7 separate regions of the Homo sapiens genome follow, and regions 1, 2, 3, 4, 5 and 7 are each reported to be linked to region 6. Evidence: microRNA targets listed by miRTarBase, many of them from high-throughput screens and not tested one by one. Region 6 holds a microRNA gene; each other region holds the end of a gene's coding sequence. Distances are from middle to middle.

Region 1 (4,062 bases), not on the chromosome of region 6:
AGTTCCACTTATAGCTGATGTATCCAGAATAAGCAAATTCACAGAGACAGGAAGTAGAAGTTGTCAGGGGCTTGGGGAGGAAAGAATGGGAGGCTATTGTTTAATGGATGTAGAGTTTCAGTTCAGGAAGATGAAAGAGTCCTGGAGATGGATGGTGGTGACGGCTGCACAACAGTAAGAAGGTACTTCATGCCACTGAACCATACACTTAATAATGGCTGGCCGGGCGCGGTGGCTCACGCCTGTAATCCCAGCACTTTGGGAGGCCAAGGCGCGTGGATCACCTGGGGTCAGGAGTTTGAGACCAGCCTGACCAATATGGTGAAACCCCATCTCTACTAAAAATACAAAAATTAGCCAGGAGTGGTGGCAGGCGCCTGTAGTCCCAGCTACTCGGGAGGCAGAGGCAGAAGAATTGCCTGAACCTGGGAGGTGGAGGTTGCGGTGAGCCGAGATCACAGCACTGCACTCCAGCCTGGTGACAGAGCAAGACTCTGTCTCAAAAAACAAAAAGAAAAAAAGATGGCTACAATGGTTAATTTTATGTTATATATATTTTGCCACAATTTAAAAAAGATCACTCAGGAACTTATAAAAATCCCAATGCCCAGGTCTAGTAAGACCATTTCAATCAGAACCTCTGGGGTCAGACCCTGTCACTGGTCTTTTAAAAAAGCTTCCCAGGGGGCTGGGCGTGGTGGCTCACACTTGTAATCCCAGCACTCTGGGAGGCCGAGGCAGGCAATCACCTGAGGTCAGGAGTTCAAGACCAGCCTGGCCAACATGGTGAAACCCCGTCTCTACTAAAAATACAAAAAAAATTAGCTGGGCCTGGTGGCTCACGCCTGTAGACCCAGCTCCTCGGGAGGCTAAAGCATGAGAATTGCTTGAACCCGGGAGGTGGAGGTTGCAGTGAGTTGAGATCATGCAACTGCACTCCAGCCTGGGAAACAGAGTGAGACTGGGTCTCAAATAAATAAATATAAATAAAAATAAATAAAAAGCTTCCCAAGGGATTGTAATGCGAGGATTGAGAACCACTAGACTAGATCTTCAAAGCAACAGGCAAGCTGAGTGACCAATGGGGTGGTCTATAAAAGGGGAGACACTCTCCTTCCATTCTTTTGACCTCTGACCTCTGCTTCTGGTCCCGGCCCCTCTGCCCACTCCTCTGGTCCCTAAGACCAAATTTAAGATATTGGAGCACCCAGGTCCCTGGCTAAACGCCACAGCCCTTTTCCTCACTTCTGGCCAGGAATAGTGCATCGCATTCTTCATGGGTGGGAGAGACCTTCAGCTCCAGTGAGAGACAAATGTAAAAGAATCAACAAAATGCAAATGAAATTAAATAAACTTGTTTTAATCATTAGCAGAACAAGAGCAAGCAGTAAGTGTTGATCACCCCATTTGTGGAGTGAGGGGTGGAGGGAGTATTTATAAATGCTTTGAAAAAAAGTTTCTCCTCTTAGCGGTAAGGTCCTGGATCACTTACTCCCAGCAGCATCCGAGGCTCCCGAGAGCCATTTCTGTGCTGTCTCATTCCAGGAATGTGTGTGGAGCACCTGCTCTGAACCGGCACTGTGCTGGGTACTTGCTGGGAATACGAGATGACCCCAGCTTTCTAGGAGCTAATTGGCTGATGAGCCGAGGCAGGGACATTTGCAGAAAGGAGAAAAATAGAAAGACATAGATTTTCATGACTGAGCTATGGATAATCTGGACACCAAAAAATAAACCTTTGCTTCATTACTTGCCTGATGCCTTTGCCTCCATCCCCATCCTAAAACCAGGGCTGGACTATGGGGTGACACAAGTGGGGATCCCATTTCAAGTGCAAAATTTAAGGGGGCCCCAAAAGTCCCCATAGTCAATATAAATAACATTTTAATGCAATTGTCTAAAAATAAAAATTCACATTAAAAGTCCCTCATAGACAACATTTGAAAGTCAGGACCAGAGCCTGCACTTGCAAGAGCTGGCCTCTCCTGCCTCACCCTTATCCTGCCCCTGGCTCCAATCAAATTTCATTTCTATAAATGGCTCATGGGCTGTAGTTTGTTAATTTGTTTTTTTAGAATATTGCATTAAAATATGATTTATTTTGATCATTTACTTTGAGCTTTTTAGAGATGAGTGCCTTGATTATTTCACCCTAGTCCCAGCCCTGTGGCAAAGTATCCTTGAAAACAGAGATGCCAGTAAAAGACAAGATGCATGATTGAATTCCAATCTCAGATTAAATATGCCCATGGGATATACTTATACAAGAAGACTATTTGTCTGAAATTCAAATTTAATTGAGTACCTTGTTTTTGTTTGCTAAATATGGCAGCCCTGCTTGAGGAGTATCAAACTGACTCCCCCGAAGACAAGGTGGTATTTAGTCCCATAGCAACATACCCCACCCACGTACACATGCATTTTACATACCATGAAAGTGACACTCCTGTGCATTAACACACTGTTTCCAAAGGATGTCCATCCCTTGATCTTCCTACAGCCTCTTGCCCTATACTTTCAGTCATTGAGCCTGACCCCAACTGCCTGGGCCCTCCTCAGCCTCCATGGGTCACAGTAGGCAGGAAAGATCCCACAGGCTGGTGGATGCAAAGTCTTGGATCTCTCAGAGCCACCCTGGGCATGTCCAGATCCAGCCAAACTCCTATTGCTTTACCTGGGCCCTCCTGCTTTCAGTATTTATTCCCACTGGGCAAATTGAATTCTGATCAGCAGGGACTCTGGCCATGGAGAGTTATAGGTCAACTTCCTGGGACAACAGGTGTGACAATCAATGCATCAATGGCAAACCAAAAATGGTGGGGACATTCCTTGCCCCAAGAGAATGGTAGTGTAAATCAGGCTGGTAGAAGCCAAACTCAGAAAGGTAGATAGAGCCAGAAAGGAGAGGAACAGACCAAAGACGACATTCAGAGGGTCCCCAGGCACTGGGGCCAATCCTCAAAGGGAGGATCAAGCAGAACTCCTGCTGTGCAGGGACAGAGAACTGAGGCAAAGAGAGAGAGAGGCAAGACTTGATAGGAGAGGAAGAGCAGAGAGGAGTGGCACTCTGGTGGGTGGAGTTACATACTCTCCAAGGAGGGCAGGCACACCCCAGCTGACCTGGGAGAGCAGACTGTCTCTTGCAGCATCCTGCCATGGCCACATGGGGGCGCTTCTAGCTCCCTCTCACCCTGCCCAGTGTTCTCCAAGGGTGGGCTTGCAGCAGAATTACCTGGGATGCTTATTAAACAGCTCCAATTCCTGGCCATGGTCCCAGACTCACTGTCTTAGAATCTTAGCCACAAGTCTAGGATTCTGCATTTTAAAAGCTTCCTAGGAGGTTTTCACGCACCCTAAACCCAACCTCAGATGGAAAGCATGCACCCCAAGGGATAAAGGAAGAGATATTGGCTGGCTTCTCTATAACAGGAGACCTCTCTTCATGGTGGGACTTCATTGGCTTGAATTTAGAGCCAGGCCCTAGGGTCTGGTGGGCATTGTGGAAAACACACTGGTGGGGGTTATTAGGATGAGAAGAGCAGGCAGAGGCTGTGAGCATGACACACAGCCTCTTTCATACAGAGCTTGAAGAACCTTGTGATAGCTTTCATATCAAAGTGGCATGGTGAATGGAACGAGAATGATTCCGTGCCCAGCAACGTGTGTCCTGCTTTGCTTCCTCTTCCTGGGCCCCCTCAAGAGTCCCTGGGAGCAGAGCCAGGGTGGTGGAACTCCACCCTAGATCTCACTCTCTTCCAGAATCTCCTCCATGGTGTTGGCCATGGTGACATCCCCCTCACTGCACTCGGACAGGCTGCTGCCCCGGGGCCAGCGTGCATGGTCCTGTTGGGGCTGGGCGCCCAGCTCCCCAAGACCTCGCATGGCTAGATGTAGGAGCCGCCCACTGTTAAGTGAGGGCTGCAGCTTCCGAAGCTTCTCAGCGCCATCTCCTTCCGAGAGCTTCTTGGGACATTTTCCTAGGAACCGGAAGTCCTTCCCCAGGACACAGGCTCTGCAGCCTGAGTGGCGGGCTAGCAAGAAGCGGACCCAGTATTTCCGCAG
Region 2 (4,069 bases), not on the chromosome of region 6:
GATATCCTACTTTTTGCTGTGAGTGTTTTGATAATCTCTCTATGCCAAGCAAGTTGAAGAGAACTGAGGAGGTCACTTTGGGTAGTCCTTTAATGACATACTTAGGTTTTTGGGAAAGTGATGAAAAGAGCCCCTCCAAGGCCTCCTGTCCATGGTTGGCACAAGTCAGGGAATATATTACAGAGGCATGATAACTTGGCTGATGATCTTCATTCTTGAATGACAGGATCACAGGCTTGCTACCTATGATCCTAAAGTTGTAAGGGCAATTTCAACAGCATTCCAGCAGCGGGTTTCTTGGCTATTTTTAATATTTCTTCATTCTTTTTAAAAACAAATACTTTATTTGCTTTATAGGAACAAGGTCTTAATAAAAAGCCTCCAATGGGAATAGAATATCAGGAAAAAGGCCACATCTATGGTAATTAATGGCAGAAAAGCTGGAGAGTTGGATTCTGCGGTGCTGCTGACAGGTGAACTCTGGTCCTCTGCACCTGTTTATGGGCCATGCAGACTGGTGGGGTGGCAGATGTTAGCCTAAGACCCCTAGCAGTGCCTGTTGCTTTGTGAGTGGAGATAGAGACTCTTACATTTAAAAATGGAAAAACATTTCACAAATTACCATAAATTGTAGTTAATATGTAGAAAAACTCATTCATACTACTTTTCTAAAATAGACATGACTTCAGCAGCAGCTTTTTTTTGTTGTATTTTGAGACAGTGTCTCACTGTTGCCCAGGCTGGAGTGCAGTGGTGCAATCTCAGTTCAGTGCAATCTCCGCCTCCTGGGTTCAAATGATTCTCCTGCCTCAGCCTCCTGAGTAGCTAGGTACAGGCACCTGCCACCACACCCAGCTAATTTTTTGTATTTTTAGTAGAGATGGGGTTTCACCATGTTGGCCAGGTTGGTCTCAAACTCCTGGACTCAAGTGATCACCCTCCTCAGCCTCCCAAAATGCTGGGACTATGGGCATGAGCCCCTGCGCCTGACCTTCAACAGCTCTTTTAAGTGAGTTCTTCAGCTAAGCATTGTGATGGACTTGAGTAAAATGGTAGTTGGCTCTTGTGCTCAATTTTCTCTTCCTCTGAACACTGACTACTTTAGGAGCTGCTTCATTCCAATTGCAATTTCATAAAACGTAAAGTATTTTAAGGCAAAGAAAGGCTGTTAATTCCCTCCCTCCCCCAAACACATGATTTTTAATATTCTAAACAATATTTTTCAAAGTTCTCTTAATAACCTGAGATTTCTATGGTTTGACTCCAGGATCAAAACACAAGGGACTTTGTATTATTTCACTTATAATTGTTTTGTATATTTCTGGAGTTTAAAATGTTTAAGGTTGCTTCCCGCTCATAAATACATAATATATTGAATTTAAAATGTGTTTATTAACCGATTCTCCATAAATAAAAATAAGATGTGTATGTAAAATAATTCATCTGTTGTATTTAGAGAACCATATTCATTGCATGCAAATTTTATTGTTAGTGTTCTTAACTCAAGTAGGAGTAAACCAAAAAGTGTGATTTTTCTTTTGTATGACTCGTTTGTTCTTTATTAGTTGGTGGTATGGGTTGGATCATTTGTTTTTAAAACTACTTAGGTATGATTCACATACAAAAAGCTGCACATATTTAATGTATCCTATTGTGTAATTAATTTTTAATTTTTTTGTGTACTTCCTAAACTTATAGTCCTGCGAGTCTGGGAACAGATCTGTTTTTCACTTATCCTGATTTAATGACAGTTTCCAACATTGTTTTGTTATTACAAGTAGGGGATCTTTTTTTTTGCCCGTTTAATGAAGATACTAAAAATAATGCACTGGAAGGAGTGGAAGAGTTGGAAAATTTGTAACCATCATAATACAGGTGTAATAGGTTTGGGAAAGAATCCTCAAAAATGTTAAAGCAAGGGAGGAAAGTTTGTTGAGAAGCAAGATGTTCTTCTCTCCTGCCCGCCCCCGCCGTTGGTTGTTGGTGGTCAGAATTATTGTGTAATAAATAATAGACATTTTTTCTTATACTATGTGTATTGTTCCTTTTGTTTCCTTTTTAAACTTCTCCCCTGCTTTATTTGGATGGGTCAAGTTTCTGTTCTGTTTCCTTCCTTTCTATTAATTTGGAAATGTCCTTGGCTTTACGATTCTGCTTGTAGATACTTCCCCTGCTTCTAACACATTTCAATAAACTTAAATTTCTCTATATACAAAATAAATTAATAATTGGAGTCTACCAGTAAGACAGTTTATTTACTCATCTTCCTGCCCCAGCAAGATAAAACCTTAAGGTTACATACTTGCCAAATCACCCTAATTTTCACAGGCCTCCCCCAAAGTTCCTATCAATCACATTCAGTCCCCCACTCCCTGTCTCCCTGCTATGCTCCCAGAATGCTAAGAGGAAGACAGTTGGAGCTATAAACTCCCTGTGTCTCAGATGAGTTCCCTGGCAGAGGCATGACATCTTGCTGTTTTGGGGGGAGCTGAGAGAAGAGATTTATATTCCCAATTTCCCATCTGGATGTTAAGATAACTTGTACAAATAGGTCTGTGCCCACATTGTATCTGGTGTGGGAAACCTGGAGCCAGCCTTGCAAATTTCTCTTGGCCCCAAAGGGACATGGCAGCTTCCAAGGGTAAACGTTGGTCAGGGCTTCTGAACATATTGTTGATGGAAATAAAATTTCTACATTTTGGCACGATGGGGCTTACTGACGTAAAAATTGGAATTTGGCTACAGCCACCTTAACCAAGGATTCCAACTTAGCACCACCAGGAATGTTACAAACTAAAATGTCTTTTCTGATAAACAATGGGAAGTACACAATATCATTGCCAAAAATATAATGTAAATCTAATAATGAGGAAACAATTAGTCCTGATTACACCTGTTGTCTCAGGCTAATTGAGTCTACCTTGCTTTGAATGACACTTAGACATAGCCATATGTGAAGAGCCACAGGGGCCAGGGGCAGTGGCTCACGCCTGTAATCCCAACACTTGGGAGACTGAGGCTGGCAGATGACTTGAGCCCAGGAGTTCAAGACCAGCCTGAGCAACATATTGAAACCCTTTCACCAAAGTACAAAAGTTAGCCCGCTGTGGTGGCCTGTGGACTGTAGTCCCAGCTATTCGGGTGGCCGAGATGGCAGGATTGCTTGAGCTGGAGGTTGAGGCTGCAGTGAGCCATGATCGCACCACTGCCCTTCCAGCCTGGGCAGCAGAGCAGAGACCCTGCCTCAAAAAAAAAAAAAAAAAAAGGGCCAGGCGCGGTGGCTCACACCTGTAATCCCAGCACTTTGGGAGGCCGAGGCGGGCAGATCACGAGGTCAAGAGATCGAGACCATCCTGGCTGACAAGGTGAAACCCCATCTCTACTAAAAATACAAAAATTAGCCAGGCGTCTGTAGTCCCAGCTACTCGGGAGGCTGAGGCAGGAGAATGGGGTGAACCCGGGAGGCGGATCTTGCAGTGAGTAACGAGAGGACAATCTCTGTATTCAAAAAAAGCTAAAATTGGCCGGATGCGGTGGCTCACACATGTAATCCCAGCGTTTTGGGAGGCTGAGGGGGTGGATCACCTGAGGTTGGGAGTTCAAGGCCAGCCTGACCAACATGGAGAAACCCTGTCTCTACTAAAAACAAAAATTAGCCGGGCGTGGTGGCACATGCCTGTAATTCCAGTTACTCAGGAGGCTGAGGCAGGAGAATTGGTTGAACCCGGGAGGCAGAGGTTGTGGTGAGCCAAGATCACGCCATTGCACTCCAGCCTGGGCAACAAAAGCAAAACTCCATCTCAAAAAAAAAAAAAAAAAATTAGCTGGGTGTGGTAGCACATGCCTATAATCCTAGCTACTTAGGAGGCTGAGGCAGGAGAGTCACTTGAACCTGGGAGGCAAAGGTTGCAGTGAGCCAAGATTGTGCCTCTGCACTCCAGCCTGGGCAATAGAGTGAGACTCCGTCCCACACACACAAAAAGGGCCAGGTGCAGTGGCACACACCTGTAATCCCAACAATTTGGGAGGCCCAGTGGGGCGGATCACCTGAGATCCAGAGTTTGAGACC
Region 3 (4,069 bases), not on the chromosome of region 6:
TTGCATTTGATAAATAGTCTGGCTTTCTCTAAAGGATAGACTTCAGGCAAAAGCATCATCCTCCCTAACAGTGAGACAGGTAGGGCTGTTTTTCTTTTCCTTCACTGTAATATTTTAGACAAATACATTGTTGAAAAGAATGTAAAATTTATATGAATTTTAAGAAAACATAAAACTTCAAATAAGTTTCATGGGTTACTTCTGAGCATGCCCTCTCCTCCCAAAATCCTTGGACTTTTAATTCATAGCTTCAACCCATCTCCTCTACAGAGAAAGATTCTTTGGTAGATAATTTTTAGAAACACTGCCCCTTTCAAGAAATCCAGTTCTCCTTTAAATACATTTTATCTTTACTGAGCTTCTTTGTTTTGTTTTACAATTCCTATGGAATAAACTCTGCACCTTTTAAGGGTATTAGTGAGGTAGTTACTTACAAGTCTTTGAAAGATTATTTTGTTTTCTTTTGCAGGTGATCACTCTTTTTATCTGAGTTGCAGATGTGGTGGAAAATACAGTGTTTCCAAGGATGAAGCGGAAGAAGTTAGCCTGATTTCTTGTGATACATGTTCACTAATTATAGAACTCCTTCATTATAACTAAAATTGTTCACAACTTGAAATGCTTTAACTGTGGTATTGAGACATGATGAGAAGCCGTTGAGCTTTGTCCATTCAAGGAAATGGATTATTTGTCAGCCCGATTATTTGCAAAGAAAATATACAATTATCAAGCAGAGACCACCTCAGATTAATAGAGAATGAATATAATTATTTATTTGTATTTATAATTTATATTTACAAGTTGTCACAAAAATAGATTTGATTATATTTGGTGAATTCCCATCTGAGAACTTTATTATGTCATTTTTTTCCATGACACAAAATAAGAATTTTCTTAATATGAGCATGTCTCCTCTTTTCAGTGGGTAACAGTATCATCATATTCCTTTATAGTTACTAAGTTTCTGGTCTAACCGATAACGTTTCTAGTTGCTAAAGTTATGGGGCTGTTGTACACCTAGAATCTTTGTGAATAATGTGAGGCCAGTTCTTCCATAAGGAAGGCTGGTTATGGATATTCATAAGGTTATTTCAAAGTTAATAAAGACAAAGTGGCAACTGTAGAAAGTGTTGCCTCCAATCTTGGTCCGTATTTCCAAAGCTTGTAAACACTGCCATCTTCAAATTTAAATGTAATTTAGGAAATGGAAGCTTTTAATTTTAATTTCTTTTTTCTAAGACAGAGTCTCACTCTGTCGCGCCAGCTGGAGTGCAGTGCCATGATCTCAGGTCGCTGTAACCTCCGTCTCCTGGGTTCAAGTGATTCTCCAGCCTCAGCCTCCCGAATAGCTGGGATTACACGTGCCCACCACCATGCCCAGCTAATTTTTGTATTTTTAGTAGAGATGGGGTTCCACCATGTTGGCCAGGCTGGTCTCAAACTCCTGACCTCAGGTGATCCACCTGCCTCGACCTCCCAAAGTGCTAGGATTACAGGTTTGAGCCACCGTGCCTGGCCTAAGTTTTGTTAATAGAGATGGGATTTCATCATGTTGGCTAGGCTGGTCTTGAACTCCTGGCCTCAAATGATCCGCCCACCTCAACCTCCCAAAGTGCTGGGATTGCAGGCGTGAGCCACCATGCCTGGCCAGAAGCTTTTTTAAAAATAATGACTTGGAAGTTGGTGCATTATTTCCCCTTTTATTTTGGAGTGTTGATATAATATTGGGGCCAGGCATGGTGGCTCACATCTGTAATCCCAGCACTTTGGGAGACTAAGGCAGGCGGATCACCTTTGGTCAGGAGTTCAAGACCACCCTGGCCAACATGGTGAAACCCCATATCTACTAAAAATAATTTTTTTAAAAATTAGCCAGTCACGTTGGTGTCTGCCTGTGGTCCCAGCTACTCGGGAGGCTGAGGCACAAGAATCACTTGAACCCAGGAGGCAGAGTGAGCCGAGGTTGTGCCACTGCACTGCAGCCTGGGCTACAGAGAGCAAGACTCTGTCTCAAAAAAAATAAAATAAAATAAATAAAAAAAGATATAGTATTAATGCCTGTATTTATGAAGACAGGGCCATTGCACTGCTGCTATGCTGAAATGAACTTTTATAAAGTATTATTGACTATAGCCAACTACAGATGGCATATGCCTTAAAGATGCATTTTTCTATGTATTTAATATTTTGTGTACAGTAAAAGTCAGAACTCATTTAAAGAACTTTAAGGGATCCTTTAGAAACATTTTTACTTAATTTCAAATGAGTGGGCTGAGCATGTAGACTAGCAGCTTTTTATCAAACCTGGCATTGTCAGGTTGAACTTATAAATACGAATAGTTACTACTCTGACTTGTAAATGTAGCTGCTAAAGTATGAGGTATATTTAAGAAGAATAGATTAGTTTCATTATACCTATAAGAACAAGAATTCAAAAGTGAGGTAGTCATCCAGGTTCCCCCTCCCACAATATTTTTGTATCATAAAATTTAGATGACTTTTTTGGGTTACATTTTTATCCATATATTTTGAACTAACAGAACTTGGCAGAATGTGTGTTGAATATTCTTTACATTTAACAATTAAAAACAACTAAAACTGAATAGCAAATAGTTTATTGGTAAGTACACGGTTTCAACGGGAGTAATAAATTCACATGAAAAGGAGACAATAATCAAGTCAAAAGAATAAATGCTTACTAATCATCAGAAAATCTGTGGCCATTAGGGCTGGCACGTAAAAATCCAAAATCACTCAGAGGCCAAATCTGTAAAATCAAAATGAGGTTGAAGACAATTAGTGAAAGTAATGTTATAGTATCATCATATTCCCTTTTGCTATCTGTCCCTTTTCTCTATGCCAGATAAACACTTTCTCCTTACTCATCAATCAAGAATAAAATTTTCTACATCAAAGTAAGACTTGAGAAAATAAACTTATGTGTATATATGTTTAAACTCCAAAGTTTGGGACATTCAAACAATGTACATGAAATTATATGTGTGTGGTGTGTGAATAAATATGTATGAATATATGGTCTGTGTTTTCTTTTACTACTTGCAAGTAAGAGTTAACTGTGTACTTTCAACCAAAGGGGCTTAGGTTTAAGTACTTGAATATGGCATCTGTTTTAAATGTAAAGAATCCTGTAAATTATCCAACAGCTCCATGTATTCATGAATGTTTTTCTCCTCACTGATTGTGATAAAAAGGAGGGGCCAGTGAAAACAATCTTCCCTAATAATCATACATTCACAATAAGTCTGTGACTCACAGTACTCAACTGGGGTATCCCTACTTTACAGGTAGTTTGAATCTAGACTGTTCTTCTGCACATGCTTATTAAAATATGCCCTGGGCAGGATGTGAACATGGTTTTAAGAGTTGTACAAGAGAGAACTGAACTTTTGGAAATTCAAATTAAAGTTTTCTTAGGCTATAGCTAAGGTAGTTTGGATTTTATTATTATCTCTATGGGAGCAGGGGCAATGGGGGAATAGGTTTGCATATGGCTATTAAGTTAAGGCCAACAGGTTCAAAAAATATATTCGGTGCAACAGTTAAGTACACTGACAGCTTGAAGATTTCAGAGATCATTTTGAGAGAAACTTTTTCTAGCTCAGAAAATAAACCTTACATTTTAAGCAGAAAATGGTACCTTAAAGAAGATTCGTCCTCTTATTAGTCCATATGGAATAGGTCCATAGCACCTGGAATCTGTAGAATTCTGTAGATTGTCACCTTCTAACCAAACATGACCCATTGGCACCTAGAATTAGAGAAGAAATGCAGCCTCTTAAAGATAAAACCTAATTTGGGTACTATAATTAAAAAGCATGTCATTCAGAGGTAGGGAGAAATGTCCTAAGGCTCTCTTTTATAGAATAGATACAAATCCTAATATTGCATTTTTGCTTTTATTTCTTGCACAATAACTTTTACTAAATATCAAAGGTTTCAACTTTTTTAAAAACCTATCATCTTTTTTTGTCATATGGTTCCCAAATATTAATTTGTTATACAAACCCCAAACTGAGGTTATAAGAGATCAAAATAGTGTGACAGGGTC
Region 4 (4,069 bases), not on the chromosome of region 6:
ACTCCAGGAAAAAGGAGTGACAACAAGCCTCCAGATTAGTGGGGACCATTCTATCAATGCCACTCAACCCAGTAAGCCATATGCAGAGCCAGTCAGGTCAGTGAGAGAGGCATCTGAGAGACGGTCTTCAGATTCCTACCCTCTCGCTCCTGTCAGAGCACCCAGAACACTGCAGCCTCAACATTGGACAACATTTTATAAACCACATGCTCCCATCATCAGTATCAGGGGGAATGAGGAGAAGCCAGCTTCACCCTCAGCAGCAGTGCCTCCTGGCACAGATCACGATCCCCACGGTCTCGTGGTGAAGTCAATGCCAGACCCAGACAAAGCATCAGCTTGTCCTGGGCAAGCAACTGGTCAACCTAAAGAAGACTCTGAGGAGCTTGGCTTGCCTGATGTGAATCCAATGTGTCAGAGACCAAGGCTAAAACGAATGCAACAGTTTGAAGACCTCGAAGGTGAAATTCCACAATTTGTGTAGGGATGTCAAATTTCAGGGTTTTTTTGTTGTTGTTGTGTTATTTTGTGGTATTGTGCTTGTTTTGTGAAAGAATGTTTTGACAGGGCCTCTTTTGTATAGGACTGCCAAATCATGGGTTTTGCCTTTTGTTGTTGTATTTATCCTCTGTTGGTAATACTGAATGGTAGAATGTTTTGATAGGGTCACATTTGTGCCTCACTGGAATTATCTTTAAATTCTGTATTTTTAAAGTTGTGAATAAGATAGGTGGATTCGTATTTTTTAAAGTTCAGTTGACTTTCCCCACCAAATGGTCCATTTGAATGCATCCCTAATATATGATATAGTCTCAACTAATAGGTGCAATTTGGGAAAATCAGGTTTATTTTTTGGAGTGGAACTGTTATAAGTGCTTATTTATAAAAGGAATGTTTCTGAATGCAAGTGCCTAAAAAGATCTTTGTTGGTATGCATATGTTTTGTCACACAATTTTATAGTGCATCTTTCACCATTTGTGCTTTTTTAAGATACGTATGTAAGCTCTTATTTTTCAATTGGCAATTCAGTTAATTTTTAAATGTTTACATAATGGCCAGAAGGCTTGCAAATCTGTATTTAATTGCATTTTAATTAATTGCCAGTTTTTACATGTGATAGTCAGTTGTACAAAGAAAATGCACTTAAACCTGTTTCTAAATTATATATTCAGTTATATTATATTTGGCTTTAGATGGTTTTAATACATTTGATAGTTTTTCACCCCTTGGCTTTATTTTATATAAACTTTTGTTTTTCAGCAGTTCTGAACTTTTTAGTATTTTATAAATGGTCCAAAAAATGCCTGTTTCAGAAGTTTTTGAATTCAGTGCATTTCCTCTTGATTTGTCTGGGTTAAAACCATTCCTTTTGTATGAAATGTTTTGACTTAGGAATCATTTTATGTACTTGTTCTACCTGGATTGTCAACAACTGAAAGTACATATTTCATCCAAATCAAGCTAAAATTTATTTAAGTTGATTCTGAGAGTACAGGTCAGTAAGCCTCATTATTTGGAATTTGAGAGAAGGTATAGGTGATCGGATCTGTTTCATTTATAAAAGGTCCAGTTTTTAGGACTAGTACATTCCTGTTATTTTCTGGGTTTTATCATTTTGCCTAAAATAGGATATAAAAGGGACAAAAAATAAGTAGACTGTTTTTATGTGTGAATTATATTTCTACTAAATGTTTTTGTATGACTGTGTTATACTTGATAATATATATATATATATATATCAACTTGTTAAATTATTTCATGTTCCCGTGGCTTCTTTTCAGTTGTTGCCTATTACAGTATGAGAGTTTAAGGTTATTAACCATTGGCTTAGAAGTCAACACCTAGGATCATACATCCGTTGACTACAATGTGGAATGAATTTTATGGAAACCTGTTTTATAGTTCTATGTGATGTAAAGGTCTAGGGAGCAATAACCAGCCCTTTTTTTTCTGAAGGCTTGTTTTTAGTCCTCATTGTACAAAATATAAAATAATCATATTGCTATGAATACCTAAAAAGAAAATTAGAGCCCATGTGTATTGAGCCTTCTCTGTGTGCCAGGAACTTTGCCAAGGTGCTACATAGATTATTTTATTTCAAGTTCACAGCAACCTATAATGGGTGGGTAAGCATGTTATTATTTCTGTGTTACAGATAAGGAAACTAAGGCTTAGTTAAATGACTTGCTTCAGTGTTCCACAGGTGTAACAGGTGGAGTCAAATCTCAAACATAGGGCTGTCAGATTTTGATGGTTAGTGCTCTTAATGACTGTGATTACTAAATAATATCTGGTAGTTTTTAACAATAGAAAATGCAACTTTAAAAAATTTTTATTGTGGTAAAATACACATAACATTTACCATTTTTAAGTATATTGTTTGAACCATTTTTAAGCATATAGTTCAGTGGCATTAAGTATATTCACATTGTTTTGCAACCATGAGCACCTATTCATCTCCAGAACATTATCATCATCCTATACTAAAACTTAGAAAATGTACTTTTAAACTTCTTCAGTTCTCTTTTAATATATGGAGCCCACCCAAAGGTTATATCATGTAATAAACTCATTTCTCTGTTTTCCCTCACAGCTTAAAAATGAGAATTTCACTTTTGGGTCCTTTCTGCCTTTAGGGCTCCCTGGCACTTTGTCCAGCGTAGAGCCTTAAGCCTCTAGATGCTTTCTAGTTTCCTGGGGCCCTGAGGCAAGTATCTCTTGAGAAGAGGTTGCTATTTCTAGAGGATCCACAGTGTGCACTGTGTTGTGCTATCTAATAGTGTGGTGGAAATCATTTATCCAGAAGTTGTTTTTTGCAACATGGAAAGATACGTGACCAAAAGGAAAGGGCAACAGCAGGAGCCCTGTTAGTGCTGCCAGAACACCAGGAAGCCTTGTGGGAGGCGTATTGTCCAAGATGATGCGTATTGTCCAAACGACTCAGAAGAAGTCATTTCTGAAGGGTTGATCATAACTTCCCTAGCCATGTTTTACCTACAGAGAACTTAGTTAGAATTTATGAGTACAGTATGTTAAATTACTTTTAGTGTACCTTAGGCAGTGTATTTGTTTTGATACAGAGACAAAGACTATATGATCCCTGAGACTTGTTGCCTAGTGAACTCACAAGCAGATAGAATTGTACCTCAGTTATTTGGGTGATTTAAAGATGGTACTATGGCTACACTATTCCCAGCTATCGTTGTGTTACAGTATTTATACAACTGGAAACATCTCTCTAAATGACAACCATTGTATATTGTTAAATAACTTATAGTCAGTGGAATTCTGTGGGTTTTTCTTTCCTACAGGCAGGAAATTATGGTGATGTGTTGATATGATTATATATGTAGACTATTCAGTTAACATCTAGGAGTTAGCAAATTTGCTACATTCACAATCAGTATGTAAGTCAGTTGTATTCCTAGATATCAGCAACTAACAGAAATGGAAGTTTTTAGAAAGATCTCTTCAATATCATTAAAAAATACAAAATACTCTACCTAAGAATAAGTCTAACAAAAGATGTACAAGATCTTGATGGAGAAAATGTTAGACCATGTCAGGAAGCATTTAAGGAGATCTTAAATAAATGTAGTACTCCATAATGTACACGAATTAGAAGACTCAGTCGTGTAAAGATGTTCATTTACATTTGTAGATTCAATGTAATCCCAACCAAAATATTTTTTGCATTATTACCTCTATCTACTGTGTGTTTCCTTAAGACAAGGGCATTCCTACGTAACCATAGTACAACCATCAAACTTAGGAGATTGACATTGACATCATGATATCTAATCCATAGACCACATTCAATCTGCTGATTTTGATTGCCTCAGTAATGTTCCTGTGTTTCAGCATCCCAATCCAGGACCACATAGTGCATTTAGTTGCCCTATCTCTTGTTTCATTCAGTCCAGAACATCTTTTCAGACTTGTCTTTGACCTTGACACTTGAGGAGGATTGGCCAGTTTGTAGAAAGTTCCTCAGTTTTGGTTTATCATTAGATAAGACCCATAAGGTTTAGGATAGACATTTTTGTCCAATACTACAGAAATGATGCT
Region 5 (4,060 bases), not on the chromosome of region 6:
CTGAAGAGAGAAAAGTCCTTAGGGAATAAACACAACACTGCACCCAGTGGAGCATTTACCCGTTTCCCTCTTCTCCAGAGCTTGTGAGCCTGCAGGTCCTGGATCAACACCCAGTTGGGACAGGAGACCACAGGGATGCAGCACAGCTGGGATTTCAGCCTCTGATGTCAGCTACTGGGTCCACTGGTTCCACTGAGGGCACCTAGACTCTACAGCCAGGCGGCCAGGATTCAACTCCCTGCCTGGATCTCACCAGCACTTTCCCTCTGTTTCCTGACCTATGAAACAGAGAAAATAACATCACTTATTTATTGTTGTTGGATGCTGCAAAGTGTTAGTAGGTATGAGGTGTTTGCTGCTCTGCCACGTAGAGAGCCAGCAAAGGGATCATGACCAACTCAACATTCCATTGGAGGCTATATGATCAAACAGCAAATTGTTTATCATGAATGCAGGATGTGGGCAAACTCACGACTGCTCCTGCCAACAGAAGGTTTGCTGAGGGCATTCACTCCATGGTGCTCATTGGAGTTATCTACTGGGTCATCTAGAGCCTATTGTTTGAGGAATGCAGTCTTACAAGCCTACTCTGGACCCAGCAGCTGACTCCTTCTTCCACCCCTCTTCTTGCTATCTCCTATACCAATAAATACGAAGGGCTGTGGAAGATCAGAGCCCTTGTTCACGAGAAGCAAGAAGCCCCCTGACCCCTTGTTCCAAATATACTCTTTTGTCTTTCTCTTTATTCCCACGTTCGCCCTTTGTTCAGTCCAATACAGGGTTGTGGGGCCCTTAACAGTGCCATATTAATTGGTATCATTATTTCTGTTGTTTTTGTTTTTGTTTTTGTTTTTGTTTTTGAGACAGAGTCTCACTCTGTCACCCAGGCTGCAGTTCACTGGTGTGATCTCAGCTCACTGCAACCTCTGCCTCCCAGGTTCAAGCACTTCTCGTACCTCAGACTCCCGAATAGCTGGGATTACAGACAGGCACCACCACACCCAGCTAATTTTTGTATTTTTTGTAGAGACGGGGTTTCGCCAAGTTGACCAGCCCAGTTTCAAACTCCTGACCTCAGGTGATCTGCCTGCCTTGGCATCCCAAAGTGCTGGGATTACAAGAATGAGCCACCGTGCCTGGCCTATTTTATTATATTGTAATATATTTTATTATATTAGCCACCATGCCTGTCCTATTTTCTTATGTTTTAATATATTTTAATATATTACATGTGCAGTAATTAGATTATCATGGGTGAACTTTATGAGTGAGTATCTTGGTGATGACTCCTCCTGACCAGCCCAGGACCAGCTTTCTTGTCACCTTGAGGTCCCCTCGCCCCGTCACACCGTTATGCATTACTCTGTGTCTACTATTATGTGTGCATAATTTATACCGTAAATGTTTACTCTTTAAATAGACATTTCTGGTCTGTGTTTTATTTCATGCGTCTGGGAGCGGATAAAGTGTGAGGTTCAGGGAGAAGGAGAGGTCTGTCTCAATGCCTTGACCCAGCATCAAAGCAATCTCCCCTCCTTGTTCCCTTTCCCTGCTAGTTCCCAATGACTGACAGATTCACAGCAGAACAGAAAGGACTGGGAAGGGATGGAGGTGGGACATCTGGCGCCAATATTCAGGGGCTGACCCTGTGAGGGAACATCTGCCCTGAAGAGTTGGAGCCTTCATGTGATGACACAGAGATCTCTGTCACTGTATTCAGGGAAAGGATCAAGCCTCACTCCCCATGCAGGGAGGAGGTTCTGGCTGTGATCCGGCCTGTGGGAGAAGTGAGGACCCGCTCCCTCTACAGTGACAGCCAAGAACCTGCAGGTGACAGAGAAGGCTTCCCCTCAACTGTCTCCTATCAGGTTCTTCCAGGCATCAAGGAATAGACCTGGGACATTGCCTCCAGTGACATGAACACACCCAGAAGTGAGGTGGCCCTGCCAGGGGGTCCTGGTGCTGCCACTTGTTTTGGGAGCTCAGTGTCTGGAGAGGGGTGTGGAGAGTAGGCTTTCTGCAAAACAGTAATCATGACCTATAAATTATTTTATTCTTCATTAGCTTTTTGCCATAAAATAAAACAGGTACCCAAAAAGAAAAACTGTCTGAAAATGTTGCCCTTTAATAATAATAATAAATAATAATAATAAAAGATAAACACTCTTTAACCACCAGAGATATAGAAGTTTGTCAGCCAGCCCAGAAACCATCATTTGCCCCAGCTCAGTGATAAAGGCTTCCCTTCCCCACATAAAATCACAGCCTGACCTTTATGATGATTGCTTCTTTGTTCTATTTTATATTTTCATCCTCTGAAATTGTAGTTTAGTTTTACCTTGGGATGTATAATTTTTGTTCTCTTTTTTCTTTTTTTTTTTAAGACGGAGTCTCACTCTGTCACCCAGGCTGGAGTGCAGTGGCATGATCTCGGCTCACTGCAAGCTCCGCCTCACGGGTTCATGCGATTCTCCTGCCTCAGCCTCCCGAGTAGCTGGGACTACAGGCGTCTGCCACCACGCCCGGCTAATTTTTTTGTATTTTTAGTAGAGACAGGGTTTCACCATGTTAGCCAGGATGGTCTCAATCTCCTGACCTCATGATCTGCCTGCCTCGGCCTCCCAAAGTGCTGGGATTACAGGCGTGAGCCACCGCACCTGGCCTGTTCTCTTTTTTTCTCTATGCTCCTCCTTGAAATTTTATTGTCTGGCTGAGTTTTCCATAGTTTGCATTTTGCTGGCTCCACCCCAAGGCATAGTTTAATATGGACCTGTTTTATCTGTACTTTCTACAAATTGGTAGTTGGCTACAGAGATTTGCTTATAGACTGACTTGATTTTCTTCTTGAATACTTCATTTATGGCACTCCATTGTATTCTTCCATCAGGAGGAAGAACTTAGTACTGGTTATTTACTTCTACTCTACTTTTAATTGCCATTGCTTTTCAATGGCTAAATCTGTTAATTCGTTATGGGTTGCAAAAGAATTATAGTCTCAGTCTCTCATTCCTTCCCCATTCACTAGCTGAATAATTTCTAAAATAAGAGATTTACCCTTGGCTGGATGCGGTGACTTACGCCTGTAATCCCAGCACTTGGGGAGGCCGAGGCTGGTGGATCACCTGAGGTCGGGAGTTCAAGACCATCCTGACCAACATGAAGAAACTGTGTCTCTACTAAAAACACAGAACTAGCCGGGAGTGGTGGCGCATGCCTGTAATCCCAGCTACTCGGGAGGCGGAAGTAGGAGAATTGCTTGAACCGGGAAGGCGGAGGTTGCAGTGAGCCGAGATGGCGCCATTGCACTCCAGCCTGGGCATCAAGAGTGAAACTCCGTCTCAAAATAAATAAATAAATAAAGTGGAGCACTTGACGGCCATGGGAGAGAATCGGCTATGACCACACACAGCAAGATGATGAGCCCAGCAAAGATGATGAGCCCAACTACATGAAAACAACTTCTAATTTCATTCAATCAGAACCAACAGAACTCATCTACAGTGTTAAAAATCAAGACAGTGGCTACTCTAGGGTGGGGGAGGCTGGTTTATGACTCAACGGTGTTTCTTGGAGGGTGAAAATGATGTTGCTTGATGAAGGTGTTGTTTATCCGAGTTTTTACTTGGGCAAAATCCACTGCCCACCTGTGATTTGTCCACCTTTCTCCATGCATGTTGTCCTTCATTCAAGTTTACATTTCTGGTGTTTTGAAACAATTCTCTCTAAGCTAATATAGAATTTCTCCTACTCCAAGTCCTTAGAAATGCTGCATTGAAAATACCAGTGAATTTTTTTTTAATTCCAGGAAATAAATGCCCATGACTCAGATATAAAAAGGAGAATCTACAAGAGCAGTAGGCTTGGGAGCTGACACCAGAACAGCTTTGGAAAGGGCTGTCGAGCCAGGAACTAGGAATCAAAACCCAAACAAGACCACAGGAGGTAGAGGGTAGAAATTATGCCCCAGTAGTGCATGAATGAATGAATCAAGGGCAGTGACTCATGGGTTGCCTGGCCAGTCTGGAACTTGGGGAAAATAAAGTTGGAAAATTGGCGGATG
Region 6 (4,069 bases):
ACAGCCAGACAGGAAGAACTGTCAGTAGATTCTGATCAATTTCTCTTTCTATAAAAAAAAATGATAAGCTTAGTTAAATTGTATTAGATAAGTGAAGGGTTGTTTATAACAGTCCAGCCTCCCCTTAGCTTCTTCTATGGCTTTCATTAGGCTCCATCAAAGCCTACTCTCAAAACAAAATATAAAAATAATTGTTAACTACTAACATTGATTCTGTGATCTTCCTTTTAAACTCATCTATCTATCTATCGATCTATCTATCCATCCATCCATCCATCCATCCATCCATCCATCCATCCATCTATCCACCTAGCTATCCTTCTATGTTTGCAGTCAGTTGCTAGTTATTAAGATAATCAGAATTGCTTTCAGAATTAATAATTGGTATAAATTTCAGAAGAGTTTGAATTTAGGTGGCAAATTCATAATAAGTGAGAAGGTAAGCTATAGCATCCTCTGATAATGTGTGCAGTTTACTTTTTATCTGTCTCTTTCTAATTGAAAACTAACAAATATAGCCCCAATTAAATGCACGTAAAAATTAGAAGCTGGTGGGATAGGGTATTAAACACAATCCTAGATGACTCTTATGAACTCATACCATAAGCAGCCACTTTCTTTCTCGAGCAAACTATAGTGAGAATGAAGCATCTTAGATTGAGAAGGGATTAGGACGACCCTGAATGGAATGGGCAAATCATAAACAGCTAGGCCCTTAGAATTTGGTTGCAGTCCCAAACCCAGGTCAGTTTTTAAACATGACTATCAGCTAGATATCCTTTCTCCACCATACAATAATAGATAACAACCTTAATAAGACGTGTAGACATTAAACTTTGAAATTCCACAGTAAGATGTAAATATTTGCTCAATCAAGTACAATTTAATATGTTTGTTATACAGCAACTGCAGAGCACAGAATTTTGTACTCTTTGGATGTTTATGATAAGGTACACATTATTTGCAAGTTTTTGCTTGTTTCCTTGTTCAGTTTTTCATTATCAAACAAACAAAGCTTCTCAGCCTGGGATTAACCTGGAGTCTGGAAAGTATACATTATGGCCAGCAACTTTAAACAATAGGCCAGAGATGGGAAATGAATGAATGAAATTCTGACACAGAAGACAAACAACAGAAACTCATTTGGGCTAGTGTAGGTGTAGGTTTTTTATTCTTCAACCAACGGTGGTGAAGAGGATCTCCCTTCACTTTATGGAGGCCTTGCTGGTTTGGAAAGTTCATTGTTCGACACCATGGATCTCCAGGTGGGTCAAGTTTAGAGATGCACCAACCTGGAGGACTCCATGCTGTTGAGCTGTTCACAAGCAGCGGACACTTCCAACTCCATCTTCCCAAGAACTAAATGGGTGTCTTCTATAGTGTATGTGCAAATCTCCTTCAAAAGGAAGTCTTACTCTTCCTGCTTTCAAAAATGGGAACAAAATTCACACCTCAGCATCCAAGTATTTGTTATTTTTGTGGATATTGTTAGAGCTGGTGTCACAATGTAAACTACTAGGATGAAAATAAGTATTAAAAGATTTCTCTTTTAAAAAGCTGATTAGAAATGATAGAAGTATAAGTAAAATATTTGTTTGTGAATTTTAATTATGTACAGAATGAATTTTAGTAACAGGCAAATCTAGCATTTAAGACTGCAATTTTCTAAAATTTAAATTTATTGGATTTCTAAAGTTGGTGTATCAGCATATTATTCTTAAATAATACGCCTTCTGTTTTACAATATTTCTCATTTTTATTTATATCTTTAATTGGCTAAATGTTTTATAATGTTAATTAATAATGCTGAAACAGTCATTCTTGTGATGTTTTAATAACTCTACTAGTGTTTTAACAGTAATATGGCCTTGGGGTTTGGTTTAAAGTAGGTGTTGTACATGATATTAAGGAGATGACCTTTATCAAATGTTTTATTTTTCTTGTATTGGAATTATCATATATATATATTTTCTTATTCAGACTATGTGAAGTGACATGTTATTTGTTTTCCTGATACTAATACATTTCTAAATCCAATGGCTTTAATTGTCATGATATGTTACTCTTTTAATGTACTATTGAATTCCATTTGCTACCATTTTACTAAAGCATTTTGCATCTACATTTGCAAGTGAAACTGAGTTAAAAGTTTGTTTTTTTAATTTTTGAGTTATCTTTGGCTGAAATTTATTTCATAATCACTTGATTATATAAAACCAATTGGTAGCTTCCCCTTCATCCTTATACTGTTGAAAATTTTACATAGAACGATGATCAATTCTCTAAATGTTTGAATGGCCCTTCCTGGAAAACTTCTGGTAAAAAGCTCAAATCATTTTTTACAACAGTTTTAAAAATTATTATAACATTTTTCTAAGTCACTTGCCTATTCACATTTTCTATATCTCTACTCATTAATTTTGTTAAATTATAGATGGCTACCATTATCTATTTAAGAAAAATGCTTGTAGTATTTATCAAATAATTGTGCATATGATTCTGTTAAAATAATTATTCTCCAAATTTATCTTTCCTTTCTTTTTCCCAATATTAAATGTTTTTCTCATGCTTTTTTGCCAGAGTTTTGTGGCTTTTGATTTTTATAATTTATTACTTATCTTACTTTTGTAGTTACTTCTTTTTAATTCTGTAGAGGTTTTTGTTTCCCTTTTTAAAATAATTTCTTGAGTTTAAAGCTTAGTTTCTTCTGCATTATAAAATTTTGATACTTCTTCTTTAATATTGGGAACATTTATAGCTATGAATTTGTTTCTGACAACTGCTTTAGTCTCATCTAAATGTTTAAAATATAGCCTGGTTAACATTAAGGGAGCACAGGCTTGCTGCTTTTCAGTCTTTTGGCTAAGACCAGGTGAAAAAGAGCACGGGTTTAGAATCAAGGAGCTTAGGTTTGAATTCTGACAGTTTCACACATGTTGTGAGAGGGACTTTAACTCACTACACTTCTGTATTTGTAATTTAGAGTGAGTATATTTACATTATAGTGCTTTGTAAGATTAAATGAGATATGTTTATAAGTGTACAGTACTGTGATGATAGCAAAATCAAATGTTCAACACAAATATTAATATTGGTTGAAAATTATAGTTTGGGTTGTTCTTTTTTGTATAATAATTTTAATTTTTAAAATCTGAAGTGCTAGATGTTTGTTGCTTTTGTTGTTATTTCAAATTGTCTTACAAATTTCTAATTTTATTGCATTTTGCCCCAATAATATGGTCTTAGAATGTCTATATTTTGGGAATTTTCTAAGCTTTTCAGTTTTTGAGTTGTTTGGATAACTGAAGATCATTTTCTTTGTTGAAAAGGGCCAAGATATACACACACATGCACACAAAATGCACTCGTTTTTTATTTGTATTTATTTCCCATATTCATTATATTATTCATTTATTTTTGTTCTTATTTTTTAAAATAAATCTACCTGATTTGTAGCTGTATTTGCATTTTTTGCACCTATCATGTTTGAATCAAATTCTGTTGGTTTTTAAACATATTTTGAATTTTATACATAACTAAACTATTTTTCTCTGTTCTGTTCAGTACACTTTGCTTGTAATTCTAGTTTATCTGAAACTAATATGGCTGCTTCCTATTTCTTCTGTTTTAGTTTGCCTAAAAGAATTTGTCATCATTTTAAACTATCTGTGCCATTTTATTCAGATCAATCCCCTTTAAGTATTTTATAATTAGAATTTATTTATTTATTTATTTTGATCTTCCAGTCTCTGCTTTTAAATTGGTAGTTTAATTCTCTCATATTTTCTCTTCTCTTTTTTTGTGGTTTTATTATTTTTACTTCCCTTATGTTTCAATATTTTCTCCCACATATTTTTCAACTTTCTCAAAATATTGATTGCGAGAGTATCTATCAATACATATTTTTAAATTTAATTGCTTCTTAGTTTTACTTTGAAAAACTGTATTTTATCATTCCATGTTTTTCTGGAAATTATCAAAGCCAAGACCAAAATGTTATTTTTTTTTCAAATTAGCATTTGTTTATTTCACACTCATTTTCAGATCTTTGGTAATATTATGTAGAGTC
Region 7 (4,069 bases), 110 Mb from region 6:
TGAGACAGCCGTGAAAATGAAAACAGTTTTCCTGGGGCTCAGGTGGTAACTGTCAGACCCCAACTCTCCCATTCTCCCTTATTCATCTCCTCCCACCCCAAGTTAAGTCCTGCCTATTCCTTCATGCCTCTCTGTAAGAAATCAGATCTGTTCATACCAGTTTCCCAACTTGTGAATTTTAACATGCAAAGCCTATTCCTAAAATATAAATTCCAATGACACTTGGGACCACAGCTCCCCTAGGTCCATGTACATTGTGCTCTTATGAAACAGAAACAATATTCAGAAATATATTGTGCTAGAGACGGTTTCTGTTTATACATGAAAGATGACAGCAACTATAAAGGAGAGAGGTTTTCGTTGAAGTACACTGGAAATCTAATTCTGGCACCAGGACACAAGGAGGATCCCTACATAAGAGACTTTTCCATTGCACCATGTGCTGCTTTGGGCCTGGGAGACAGGAGTGGACACCTGAGTGCAGGTGAATCCACAGTGGTGACAGGCACTACACGGGGCCTCACCTCCCTCCCTGGCTCCGTACTTCACTCTGATTCCTTGACGTCTGCTCGATATGGTGATCAGGCTGCGGAAACCAGGCGGCCATAAGAACAATGTCTCTAGGATTCACTCAAACCCAGGATCACGGTTTTGTAATGTTATCAAGGCATGATTTTGGATTTCAGAGCTGGCCCAGTGAACAACAAGCAATCAAGCATTCCTTTCTCTTTCTTTCTCTCTCTCACATATACACACACACTCTTTCTCTCTCACGTTACTTTCACTGTCACTTTCTCTCTACTGGATAACAGGCCAAAAGTACTGGCACTCATCTTTCACTTTCTTCCAGCTATTCTTCCTACACATCTCTCACTCTCAGGTAAGTTAAACATACACCACTTCCAAAGCCCCAGTCTGCCACAGCACAAAGAAAAGCCATGTCTCCACAGGCAGAGCATGTACAGCTGAGATAAGTCCTCTGGGGCCTCACCTTTCCCTTTCCTCTAAGGAAGAGAATTTCATCTGCCCCATGAGATCGAGCCCTCAGGGGCTTGGGCACTCACAGATCAACATGTTCTAAGGTAGTGCAGGGGTCAGCATCCTAAAGGCAGCACCTTGGCAAGATCCCACATGTATTTTCTTCTCGAATCCCTAAAAGTTTCCTTGACTGTTGCTCCTTACTCACACACACACATAAGGCAGGCACAGAAGGGCAGTGTTTACAGCTGGAAGGGCAAATGCCCCTTGTTCACAGACCAGTTAGACTTGTCAAGGTCACACAGTCCTTGGCCGACTTGAACTAGAACCCAGGTGTCTCTCCTGCGTCCAAGGTCAACACTCCTCCTCCCACACCGCTGCCACCTCCTGGTGAGTAAATGTGTAAGTCTGTGAAGGGTCAGGGATGTGTTTCACCATGGAACCATTTCCATAACAGAAACCACAGGCTGCCAGGCTCACTGACTGCAGCTTTGCACCATGCACAGCCCTGCTTAGAGCAGCCACAGCGCAGGAAGAAGTGAGTGTGTGGGCAAGTGTGTGAGCACGAGAAGGGATGTGCACACATTCAGAAAAAGGAAGTCTTAGAAGAAACAATTCGATCTGCTAATGCTGTTTGGGATTTTGCTATGGAGATTAAGTAACATACAGACATGTTCTCTGTTTCCTACCCCTGGTGCAAAACAAAGCCCAGAATTCTCATCAGCCCACAGAATGGCCGAGTCTATCTATCTCCACTCAATTTTTATAAACAGAGAACATTAACATGATAATACCAACATGTATTTGGTCAAAGTCTAAACACTTTTTTGATAAAATACATTTTATGTTAATGTCCATTCCATTTCCAAACATACATAAATTTAGATTTTAAGCTTCAACGTATAAAATTTCAGTTTACCTTCCAATGGAGCAAGCTAGTGAAGCTTCCTCATTTCACTTGCAGAAGTCATTCTTGCGGCTTACTGCATTAAAGTGGAGGTTACGAAACCTGGGCGACACCTGTGTAATATACAGCTCACAATCACCTTTGCTCATGAATGGAGCCAATCAGAACACAGGCAGGGCTGCAAAGGGCAGTATATGCTCACCCCAATGGATGAAACACTAAGTTGTGTTTTACTAATAGGCTACTTGGAAGGAAATTCATTTTACTTGAAATTAACCTTTAGTATGACTTTTCAAGAAAAGAACACAAAGTGGGTACTGAAGCACAGATGGAAATCACTGTCCTATTATTTTACCCGATGACTTAAAACTGGAGTACGCTGTTTTACCACGAGCAGCCGAACTCCTCACAGCACCAATCAATTAAACAGAAAATGTCGAGACAATCAGGTTTACACCGACATGCCTGGAAGATATACAAGACTCCCATAAGTTCTGTGGCCTCTGCTGCTACTGCTTGTTTTTAATTCAAAACTTTCACAACCTAACAGGCACATGTGTGACTGTTTAAACGTACCCACCCCAGATGCTAGGTTTAATCTAGTGTTGTAAAGGAGGCATTCCGCATCCTAGGTTAACTAAAACCAGGGATGCAGAAGGGTCCAGGAATAATTCCATGTTAGCATTACAAAGGATGTCCCCAGTAAGTAATTGTTGGCTAAACGATAACAGCAGTATTTCCAGTTATTACAGAAGTTGTTTCTGTGAGTTGTCTGAGTATCTTGATTATTAAAACGTTCCCTGTTAACCAAGCTAACCCACGATTAAAAGATTCCTACCTTCGTGTCCCTTTACAAATACACCACAATTAAGTCCCTCGAAACATGTGATTAAATTTTTAAATAAATTACACAATGGAATCCTTTTTTTGACTTTTTTTTTTTAAATAAAAGACTTAAAAAGTAAAGAAGGATTCTACCATATTTTTAAAAACTTTTAATCCTGGTTTACTTTTCTAACAAATTTATCTATGGCTTCAAAGTTTAAGCGGCACTTGAATTCTGGATGTTTTCATGATTTAACAAGCGGCCATCTCATTAGAAAGAGAGAAGGTAAAATGTTTCATTTTATACGTGGGACGGCTTATAAACAGCTTTAAAAATCAATACATTATATCTTTCACCCCATCTATATTTTCCACTATAGACTTCAAAAGTGGCTTTGGAATTAGCATGTTTTGAAACAGTCGAACAAGCAAGTAACATTTACACCTAACCACGAACCAGTCGCTACATACCCAGGTAACTCAGTAATGGCAAAACACTTAAAGGCTTCTGGGCCTCTCTTACCCTCTTAGTCCAAAGCTAAGTGATTATCCTTTCCTGCCCTTGTATTTGCACTTGTGCAGTTTAATGACTAGATATTAAAATTCATGCTTTATAAGCAAAACCTTTCACTTACGGACACTTAAAAAGTACATAAAAAGTGCAGACTGCATTTCTTCTCTGCCATGCTTTCCCTCAGTAAGGTCACCTGTGAGGACTCAAAACCTATCCTTAATACATTCAGAGTTCTCTACATTCGAGTCAGCGAATGTTAATTCTCCAACATAAACTTAAGAGAATAGTCAGCCACAAAATGGACTCTAAATTCAAAATGGCAAAGGCTACCAAGACAACTCCATAGAAACCCCACTGAAGCGGGAGTGAAATTCAGGTCACTTCTGAGCAAAGCTCATCACAGATATTTTGTGGTCGTTAAAAAGGTATTTCATTTTAATTTGGATGCTGGGAGCCAGATGTCCTATTTCGAAGTGCTAATGCAAAATGCTAACCCAGGAGGGGCAGTGACCCCACCTAGGTTACTGTGGGGCTCACTCTCCTTCTCAGGGGAGCCCCCAGATTTACTGCTGGCTGACCCCCATCTGGGGGTGGTCCGCCTCTGGCTCCTCTTCTTCCACGTCAGCACTGTACTCTTCAAACGCATCGTCATCTGCATCCGGAAGCCCCAGTAACTACAGGGAGAGAACAAGAGAAAAGCAGCTGTGAGCGCCAAATGGCCCACAGGCAGGAAGACAACCAAAGGCATCGGATCCACATTAAAGAGTACTTAACCCAGCAGCTGCAGACTTCCCCGTCAACCACCCCTACAATGATTTTCATAAACTTGTTAGACGGAAATGTCA

What was found. The annotated mature microRNA hsa-miR-490-3p reads CAACCUGGAGGACUCCAUGCUG and lies in region 6 at 1,289-1,310, shown strand. An mRNA with a match to its seed (bases 2 to 7 or 8) in the 3' UTR can be bound and repressed. Matches are read on the target gene's strand: a 7mer-m8 pairs with bases 2 to 8, a 7mer-A1 pairs with bases 2 to 7 and ends in A, and an 8mer does both.
Region 1: miRTarBase lists GLP2R as a target of hsa-miR-490-3p. The part of its 3' UTR that is shown has no 7-base or 8-base seed match.
Region 2: miRTarBase lists DPPA4 as a target of hsa-miR-490-3p. Seed matches in the 3' UTR shown: 7mer-m8 at 901-907.
Region 3: the mRNA of DNAJC24 is a reported target of hsa-miR-490-3p. Seed matches in the 3' UTR shown: 7mer-m8 at 2,451-2,457.
Region 4: the mRNA of ARHGAP29 is a reported target of hsa-miR-490-3p. The part of its 3' UTR that is shown has no 7-base or 8-base seed match.
Region 5: miRTarBase lists MICB as a target of hsa-miR-490-3p. Seed matches in the 3' UTR shown: 7mer-m8 at 934-940.
Region 7: the mRNA of MTURN is a reported target of hsa-miR-490-3p. Seed matches in the 3' UTR shown: 7mer-m8 at 1,985-1,991.

What each region holds. Positions count from the first base shown.
Region 1 is chr17:9,889,382-9,893,443 of GRCh38, reverse strand. GLP2R (glucagon like peptide 2 receptor) reads right to left here. Exons shown (of 13, transcript NM_004246.3): 13 at 1,345-4,062. The coding sequence ends at 3,739. Among named protein-coding and RNA genes, the nearest start is that of RCVRN, 14 kb to the left of the region's middle.
Region 2 is chr3:109,324,313-109,328,381 of GRCh38, reverse strand. It overlaps DPPA4 (developmental pluripotency associated 4), which reads left to right. Exons shown (of 7, transcript NM_018189.4): 7 at 358-2,238. The coding sequence ends at 394. Among named protein-coding and RNA genes, the nearest start is that of DPPA2, 9.8 kb to the right of the region's middle. RefSeq lists an enhancer at 3,632-4,069.
Region 3 is chr11:31,429,802-31,433,870 of GRCh38, forward strand. DNAJC24 (DnaJ heat shock protein family (Hsp40) member C24) reads left to right here. Exons shown (of 5, transcript NM_181706.5): 5 at 470-3,034. The coding sequence ends at 600. It overlaps IMMP1L (inner mitochondrial membrane peptidase subunit 1), which reads right to left. Exons shown (of 6, transcript NM_001304274.2): 5 at 3,659-3,769; 6 at 2,600-2,767. The coding sequence ends at 2,699. Among named protein-coding and RNA genes, the nearest start is that of DNAJC24, 62 kb to the left of the region's middle.
Region 4 is chr1:94,170,284-94,174,352 of GRCh38, reverse strand. ARHGAP29 (Rho GTPase activating protein 29) reads left to right here. Exons shown (of 23, transcript NM_004815.4): 23 at 1-4,069. The coding sequence ends at 484. Among named protein-coding and RNA genes, the nearest start is that of ABCA4, 51 kb to the right of the region's middle.
Region 5 is chr6:31,509,704-31,513,763 of GRCh38, forward strand. It overlaps MICB (MHC class I polypeptide-related sequence B), which reads left to right. Exons shown (of 6, transcript NM_005931.5): 6 at 79-1,421. The coding sequence ends at 206. Among named protein-coding and RNA genes, the nearest start is that of MICB, 14 kb to the left of the region's middle.
Region 6 is chr7:136,901,954-136,906,022 of GRCh38, forward strand. MIR490 (microRNA 490) reads left to right here and starts at 1,214; the gene lies at 1,214-1,341. The region is part of intron 2 of CHRM2 (cholinergic receptor muscarinic 2); the gene reads left to right. It overlaps LOC349160 (a long non-coding RNA gene), which reads right to left. Exons shown (of 4, transcript NR_046103.1): 3 at 1-48.
Region 7 is chr7:30,157,267-30,161,335 of GRCh38, reverse strand. It overlaps MTURN (maturin, neural progenitor differentiation regulator homolog), which reads right to left. Exons shown (of 3, transcript NM_152793.3): 3 at 1-3,898. The coding sequence ends at 3,788. Among named protein-coding and RNA genes, the nearest start is that of MTURN, 24 kb to the right of the region's middle. RefSeq lists a silencer at 1,485-1,544.